Linked DNA regions of Homo sapiens: all the other regions are linked to region 1. Evidence: fine-mapped expression QTL. A gene starts in region 1. Each other region holds a variant in brackets. All regions are shown on one strand. Distances are between the middles of the regions. Region 1 holds the start of DNAJC9 (DnaJ heat shock protein family (Hsp40) member C9). Region 2 overlaps MICU1 (mitochondrial calcium uptake 1). Region 3 overlaps MCU (mitochondrial calcium uniporter).

Evidence for each region. PIP is the estimated chance that this variant, and not a neighbour inherited with it, causes the effect.
Region 2: its variant is fine-mapped to the expression of DNAJC9 in whole blood (TOPMed, PIP above 0.99).
Region 3: its variant is fine-mapped to the expression of DNAJC9 in whole blood (TOPMed, PIP 0.96).

Annotation. Positions count from the first base shown.
Region 1 is chr10:73,245,826-73,248,678 of GRCh38, forward strand. DNAJC9 (DnaJ heat shock protein family (Hsp40) member C9) reads right to left here and starts at 1,430. Exons shown (of 5, transcript NM_015190.5): 1 at 1,185-1,430; 2 at 863-1,003; 3 at 97-351. The coding sequence starts at 1,364. DNAJC9-AS1 (DNAJC9 and MRPS16 antisense RNA 1) reads left to right here and starts at 1,542. Exons shown (of 4, transcript NR_038373.1): 1 at 1,542-1,558; 2 at 2,468-2,625. RefSeq lists enhancers at 872-2,071, 1,337-1,676 and a silencer at 987-1,136.
Region 2 is chr10:72,416,709-72,419,208 of GRCh38, forward strand. The region is part of intron 9 of MICU1 (mitochondrial calcium uptake 1); the gene reads right to left. Among named protein-coding and RNA genes, the nearest start is that of DNAJB12, 63 kb to the left of the region's middle. The variant CTT/C (reference allele first, on the strand shown) is at 961.
Region 3 is chr10:72,753,672-72,756,171 of GRCh38, forward strand. The region is part of intron 1 of MCU (mitochondrial calcium uniporter); the gene reads left to right. LOC124902450 (a long non-coding RNA gene) reads left to right here. Exons shown (of 2, transcript XR_007062189.1): 1 at 1-2,500. Among named protein-coding and RNA genes, the nearest start is that of MIR4676, 34 kb to the left of the region's middle. The variant C/T (reference allele first, on the strand shown) is at 1,050.

The DNA of each region.
Region 1 (2,853 bases):
TTTCTGGAGTTTTATGTTTACTTCTACTGCTGTAAATACTCTCAAATCCTTTTTGGAAGCAGTCAAAATATAAATCCACAGTATTCAAAATCTTACCCTCCTTTTCCTTGCATTCATCTTTTGTTTCGATTCTTTGACAAAGGCATTATAGGATGGGACCTCTCCGGCGTCAATAGCTTGCTGAATGATATTCCTTATCCTGGGTTCCTCTGTGTACTGCACGCAAAGCACAGACTCCATGATCTGATCCATGTCACCCTTGAAGTCCAGATAGGCCTGCTTAATATCAGCCAGCTCTTCTTCCGAACCTTTGTATGTCTTTTCAAAAGCTTGAATGTCCTCTAAAGATATCTGATGATAAAGGAGATTTGCTTTAACTTTGGGAATTTTACTTTAAATAAAACGTACGTTAGTAAAACTAGAGTTGGGTGTTGAATTGCTGCAATACAACAGTTGCTTGAGTTGAAATTATTGAACCAGATTTTCTATGCCTAAGCTTCTCCGGAGTCCTCCTTTTTAAATCCAATCTTCATTAACTGCTAACTAGGGACCAGGGAAGGGAAATTTAAGTGAAATTTCCAAGAGTGAGAGGTGATCCGGAATCAGGACTTACATTTGGATATGTAAAATAAAGCGCATCCGGCAAAAAAAATAAATCGGCCCTTTTCAGTGCAACAATCACATTAACAGGAAATTTAAAGCCCGTTTCAGTAAGCGTGCGTGTATCTGTATTTCAAGGCCAAACTCAAAATTCCTAATTCCTACAAAATTAACACAAAATACAAGATCTTAGAGGCAGTCAATAAAGGTTTGTTGATTGAATGATGGTAACAGTCACAAAGAAACCTCCAGAGTCCTTTACCTTTTTAAAGAGTAGCCGCCAATACGCCTCCCAGTCTCGGTCTTGGGTGAGCACAGGAGAGTCCTCGTCCACTGTTCCCTGCTCATCGTACACTGCTCTCTGTTCTCTGTCACTGAGAACGGAATAGACTTTTCCCAGGATCTGAGGGCAAAGAGTATCCGTAAATCACCCCTGCTCCTCCCACCGAAACGGCGGCGCGAGAAATAAAGATCAGAAGGCGCCAAGCGGAGCTCAGCGCGCTCCCCCGGGGCGGGGCCCGGTAGCCAAAAGGCTAGGGGGAGGCCCGCGCAGCCGGTCGGCTTCGGGGCGGGACCCTGCATACCTGGAAGCGGCGGGTGGCGTCCTCCTTGTCGCCCTCACCCACCCGGTCCGGGTGTACCTGCAGGGACACCTTGTGGTAGCCTCGTCGGACCTCGCCGTCGGAGGCCTCGCGTCGCACGCCCAGCACCCGGTAAAGGTCGGCGGTGCCGAACACTTCCTCGCAAAGGTCCAGCAGCCCCATGCCGGGCGGAGATACGACCCCGGAGGAAGCAGCCGCTCCCAGCTGCGCCGGGTACAACCCAGGACTGCTTCTTTTTCGCGCCCAAAAAGCCCAGGGCGCCTGCGTCACAAGCACTGAAGGGGCGTGGCCACGCCGCGCATCCGCGCTTTACGGCGGCCGCAAAATGAGGTGTGGCGAGTCAGGCGCGGGCCCGGGTAAGTAACGCCGGCATGTGGAGTCACAGTCCCCGGCCGCGCGCAGGAGCTAGGTCTTCAGGGAAGTGATGTTGCTCGGGTCTCTCCTCCCCTTGCTCTGGAAATCTGGCGTCCGTCTTACCTTTTAGTGTCCAAGAACAACTTTTTCAAAAAGTTCATATATTAGCTTGAATTTACAAACTGCTGGCCTATTTTTTTAAGTAGAAAACGGCCAAACATCAGCATTCAGCAGTTACACATGGTTCAACTTAACAGATGTGTTTTTTCAAAAATGTTCTTGAAAGGAATAGGTAAAGCTGTAGACCCAAATAATTTTGCACCCCACTGGTTGGAAATGCTGGGGTACTTTCCCTCTAGCCCTGTAGGAAAAAACCCTATACTGAAACCCAAAAAGCACAAAACACGGGTCTTCCAAAAACTCTTACCTAATAGGACTTTCACCTTACACATTGGTGGAGAGAGATAACATGACCCAAGCCTCCGTCTTAATAACATAAACTGCTGAAGCAAAGGCTCTTTCTTTTAATACTCTGTGAAGTTCACAGCTGGGTTTGAACATGTTGGATCCCAGGTGGCAGCAGAGTGGGCTGGAGCAATCATCCAAGAGATGGTGAGAAACTTGGGCCTGGAGACCCAAAGCAAGGTTGAGGCTGGGGATAAAACTTTGTTAGTAGGGTAAACTCACAGAGGAAGTATGTGTATACATATCTTAAAGGATAAACAATGCTAAGTGAATACCCGAGTTGGCAGAAAATACCTTATCAAATATCCCCTCACTGATGTAGCATTTTTCAGAATCATTCTGCTCTGCCAATAAGTTTCTGCAAAGCCTCAAACTCTCCAGGATACATTAATATCTTTTAAACTTCCCAGAGTTGCCGTGATTTTCAAAGCATTTCTCTTTCCCAGATCCAAGATCAAACTCAGCTGAAGTCAGTTCCTCTCAACCTGCCCTGGCATCAAAGTCTCAAAGCAAGTGGGGGCCAACCAGCAACAACCCCAGGGGAGCTTTGACAACCACAGAATTTGAGATGGCTGGTAATCGTTCTCAGAACATAAAACACAAAGTAAGTCGGCACATTGATAGAACCTCCTCTATAAATTTCCTATATCTTAGTCACACACCAGAGTTAAGCCATCTGTCTTTGCTCATTTTTCCCTCTATGGACAACATAATATGTTGGGAAGGGCTTTCCAGGAGGGCATAACCGGGAGATGAATCTTACATCACTGGGCAAGTTTCCACCTCTAGGCCTCAGCTTCCCTATCTGTAAAACGGAGATAATCCTACCTGC
Region 2 (2,500 bases), 830 kb before region 1:
CTACTCCATGTTTAAGGCCAAGTTCGAATTGTACTTCCTCTAAGAAATCTTACTCGGTCTCTTCAGCTGGCTCTAATCTTCCTCCTTAGTGCTTCAAAAAGATCTCATACCTTTAATAGAGTACTCAACATATTTATCATTGCACTTGATAAGCATTTACCGCCACCATACAGAGGACATGCAAAGATGAATAAGGCACTGCTCTCAAGAAGCTCAAAGCTAAGTGAGTTACCTTGCTTTATATTTGTTTAAAATCTGTTTCGTTCCAGTAGGAATGCTAAGTTCTATGAGGCAGACACTGGTGTGCTCACTACTGCATTCCCAGTATTTAGAAGACTGCTTGGCACATAGTGGCTGATCGATAAATATTGAATATAAATGTGAATATAGAATTACAGAGTTCTTTGCATACATATTTTTCTCTTACTAGACTATTACAGACTTAAGAAATATATATAGTTGTGCTGGGTGTGGTGGCTCACGCCTGTAATCCCAGCACTTTGGGAGGCCAAGGCGGGTGGATCACGAGGTCAGGAGATCGAGACCATCCTGGCTGACATGGTGAAACCCTGTCTCTACTAAAAACACACAAAAAATTAGCCAGGCGTGGCAGTGGGCACCTGTAGCCCCAGCTACTCAGGAGGCTGAGGCAGGAGAATGGCATGAACCCAGGAGGCGGAGCTTGCAGTGAGCCGAGATCAGGCCACTGCACTCCAGCCTAGACAACAGAGCAAGACTCCGTCTCAAAAAAAAAAAAAAAAAAAAGAAATATAGTTGTAAGGATAAGGGAAGGTCTTTTTCACAGCACCTGGCTTAGTGTCTTGCACACAGCAATGTCTGCCATTGAACTGAGTTATAATTTTCAATTTCATCCTTAAGAAGTTACTAGTTAGTAGCTTCTGCATTCATAAACATAGAGGATCACCACTGTGAATTACATTTATGAAGTCTCAGAAAACT[CTT/C]TGTTAAATAAAAACATGGTGGTTTTTCAGAGCATCAATAGAGTAATTTTTGTCAAGCACGGCAGGTTCCCCAGTTCTTCAAACTATTACTTAGAGATAAAACAGCTAGAGACACTGATGGAGCATTGCATCTCTCGAGCAGTGGCTCATAAGCCTAGCTGCACATTAGATTTACCTGGGGACCCTTTGTATTAGTTCGTTCTTATGCTGTTAATAAAGACATACCTGAGACCAGGTAATTTACAAAGGAAAGAGGTTTAATTGACTCACAGTTTTGCAGGGCTAGGGACACCTCAGGAAACTTACAGTCATGGCAGAAGGGGAAGCAAACATATCCTTCTTCGCATGGCAGCAGGAAGAAGAATGAGTGCCTGGTGAAGGGGGAAGCCTTTTATGAAACCATCAGATCTCATGAGAACTAACTCATTGTCATGAGAACAGGATGGGGGAAACTGCCCCATGATTCAATTATCTCCACCTGTTCCCTCCCAGGACATATGGGGATTATGGGAACTACAATTCAACATGAGATCTGGGTGGGGACACAGCCAAACCATATCACCCTTTAAGAAACACTTCTGGAATTTCTCATGCAGAGGGTTAAGAAAACCCCAGAACACTGATGCCTGGACCCACCTACTGAGCCTCTGATTTAATTGATTTGAAGAGGGCCCAAACAACCACATTCCTTAAAAATTCCTCAAGTGATCCTATAGTAGAGAAGCACTGCTTTACAGGAAGAGTATGATTAGGAGAAACAGCACTTTCTTAAGGAAAAGACAAGATCTGGAATAGGAAGCCTTGGATTTTAGACCAGACTCTGAATGGGTTATTAACTTCTCTTTCTGTCTCTATATTCTCAAAAATACAGTATCTAACAAGGCTGTTAGAAAGGAAGAGAAAAATGGCTGTGAAACATTGCATGGTCATTAATTTATATGCAAAAATTTAATACCACCACTAGGACCTTCAATCTCTTAGGTCTTGTTTGATACCTTGATACAGAACCTCACACAGAAACTGATTAATGTCAGCCAAATGAAAACTTACATTTTCATGTTAACAAATCCAAAGTGGAATAAAAGAAGCAATTAGAAAGCAGATGGTGATTCCCCTTTTATAGGAAATGGTCCTAGAGAGATGGACTCGTAACCTTAGGAGCAAAGGCCCTTCCTTGACACTCACTTTAGTTAATTGCTATGTTCACAAACTATTTAATCAACATGAGAGGACAATCAATCTTAATCTCGTTGCTAACACAGGCTAGAAATTCTGGGCCAAAAGTAATTTAACACCGCAGATTTTCATCATCTGACAAAATTTGTCCTTTCATTTTAGAGCTCTTTTGCAAGGTCTTCAGATCCTAAATTAACTCCTGCCAATGCTCAAATACTCTTCCTTCAAGGGAGATGCCTCCAATGCCCCTTATTGCTTTTAAGTGTAAACTCACAATGAAATATGAATTCACCTATCATGATAGATAATTAAAGTCAAATCAATATCTGGACCAACCTTTAAAAATAAGCATGGTCTAAATA
Region 3 (2,500 bases), 490 kb before region 1:
TGAGACCAACCTGGGCAACATGGCAAAATCCTGTCTCTATAAAAAATACAAAATACTAGCTGGGTGTGGTGGTGGCATGCGCTTCTGGACCCAGCTACTTGGGAGGATGATGTGGGAGGATTACCGGAGCCTGGGAGATTGAGATTGCAGTGATCTGTGATCACGCCACTGCACTCTAGCCTGGGTGACAGAGCAAGAAGACTTTGTCCAAAAAAAACAAAAAAACAAAACACACACACACACAAACCCACACTATGAAGTAAGTACTGTTTTCAGCCATATTTCCCAGATGAGGAAACTGAGGTTTAGAGTGATTAAGTAACTTACCCTAGATTATATTGCAAGTAGCAATTGTTATATGGTAAGTAGCAGAGTAGGCAGAGCCACCACTAGCTATGAGAGACTTCTGTTTGAATTAGGAAAGTTACCCCCTGTGGTGAACCAATGAGGAAGCCAAACTTCCTCTGGCCTGGCACACCACCCGAAGCAGTAACTTGGGGACCTGTGCTTAGATGCCACTTATTTCAGCATCTGTGAGCTGAACATGGGCAGAATTTCAGCCTTATTTTGCTTCCTTGATGCCTTTGTACTGTGCACAAACTGAGCCACCCTTACCCAAAGGTCTTAAAGCCCAGATTTCAATCCAGGTCTATTTGAGTCCGGAGCTTATATTCTGTTTAATAGCATGCTGCCAATTAATGGCAAAGTTAAGACTTCAGCCAGATTTTCTGATCATCAGTATTTTCCTCCTTCTATTATGTATCATGCAGGTTGGTTGAATTACAGATGACACTGGAGGCGGGGCATGCTGACTCACACCTGTAATCTCAGCACTTTGGGAGGCTAAGGCAGGGGGATTACTTGAGCCCAGGAGTTTGAGATGAACCTGGGCAACATAGACCCTGTCTTTACAAAGAATTAAAAAATTAGCCAGGCATGTTGGCACACACCTGTGGTCCCAGCACTTTGGGAGGCAGAGACAGGGTTTCACCATGTTGATCAGGATGGTCTTGAAGTCCTGACCTCAGGTCATCCACCTGTCTTAGCCT[C/T]CCAAACTGCTGGGATTACAGGCATGAGCAGCCCAGGAGGTTGAGGTGGCAGTGAGCCATGAGTGCATCACTGCACTCCAGCCTGGGCTTAGCTAGACACTGCCTCAAAAACAACAACAACAAAAAGCCCAACAAATGACACTCAAGTCCCATACTGCCCAGTTTGCAGACATTTTTTGCAGATGATGTTAAAGATTTCTTAGCACTTCTACAGAGTTATAACCTCACATATTTCATAACAAACTGTGTTTTTATGTGGCTCAAGATTTGTATTGAATTCCTGGTATCACTACCTAGTTAGCTGTGTGACCTTGATCAAGTTAGGAAGGGAATATAATAAGTATAGTGGTTAAAAGCATGGACTGTAGTCTCAGACTACCTGGGGTCAAATTCTAGCTATTTCTTACTAGATATGTGAACCTGAGATTTTTTTTTTTTTTTTTTTTGAGGCAGAGATTTGCTCTTGTTGCCTGGGCTAGAGTGCAATGGTATGATCTCAGTCACTGCAACCTCTGCCTCCCGGGTTCAAGCAATTCTCCTGCCTCAGCCACCCAAGGAGCTGGGATTACAGGCATGCACCACCATGCCCAGCTAGTTTTGTATTTTTAGTAGAGACGGGGTTTCAGCATGTGGATCAGGATGGTCTTGAAGTCCTGACCTCAGGTGACCCACCCGCCTTGGCCTCCCAAAGTGCTGGGATTACAGGCATGAGCCACCCCACCTGGCCAGCTTGGGCAATTTACTTTATGTCTTTAAGCCTGGTGTGTAATGTTGATGGTAGAGTGGGGAACAATTATACCTATCCAATGAGTTGTGAGTACTATATGAGTTAAATACATGAAGCATTTAGAATAGTGCCTTGCGCATAAATATAGTAAATACATTAAGTACTATTTAAGTGCTAACTGTTGTTATTGTTATTAATATTAGATCACTATGAGTTTGCACTTGTAGCCTGTAATTCAAAGCAATTTGAACGGCGGAAGCATAAATAGATAAATGATCATCTAAATATGGCATCTCTTCAACCCTTGTTGTTGTTGTTGTTTTTGCCAGATAAGAGTTTTCAAAGGTTGTGCCAGAGTACTTGCTTTAGGGATATTAGCCCAATTGAAACCATTTTTTTTTTTTTTTCATTGAGACAGAGTCTCTCTCTCTGTTACCCAGGCTTAGAGTGCAGTGATATGATCATAGCTCACTGCAGCCTCAATCTCCCAGGGTCAAGCAGTCCTCCCACCTCCGCCTCCTGAGTAGCTGGGACTACCGGTGTGCACCACCATACCCAGCTAATTGTTTTCTTTTACATGTTTTGTAGAGACAAGGTCTCGCTTTGTTGCCCAAGTGGGTCTCGAACTCCTGGTCTCAAGTGGATCCACCCACCTCAGCTTCCAAAGTGCTGGGATTACAGGTGTGAACCACCACACCTGGCTAATTTTTTGTGTTTTTATTAG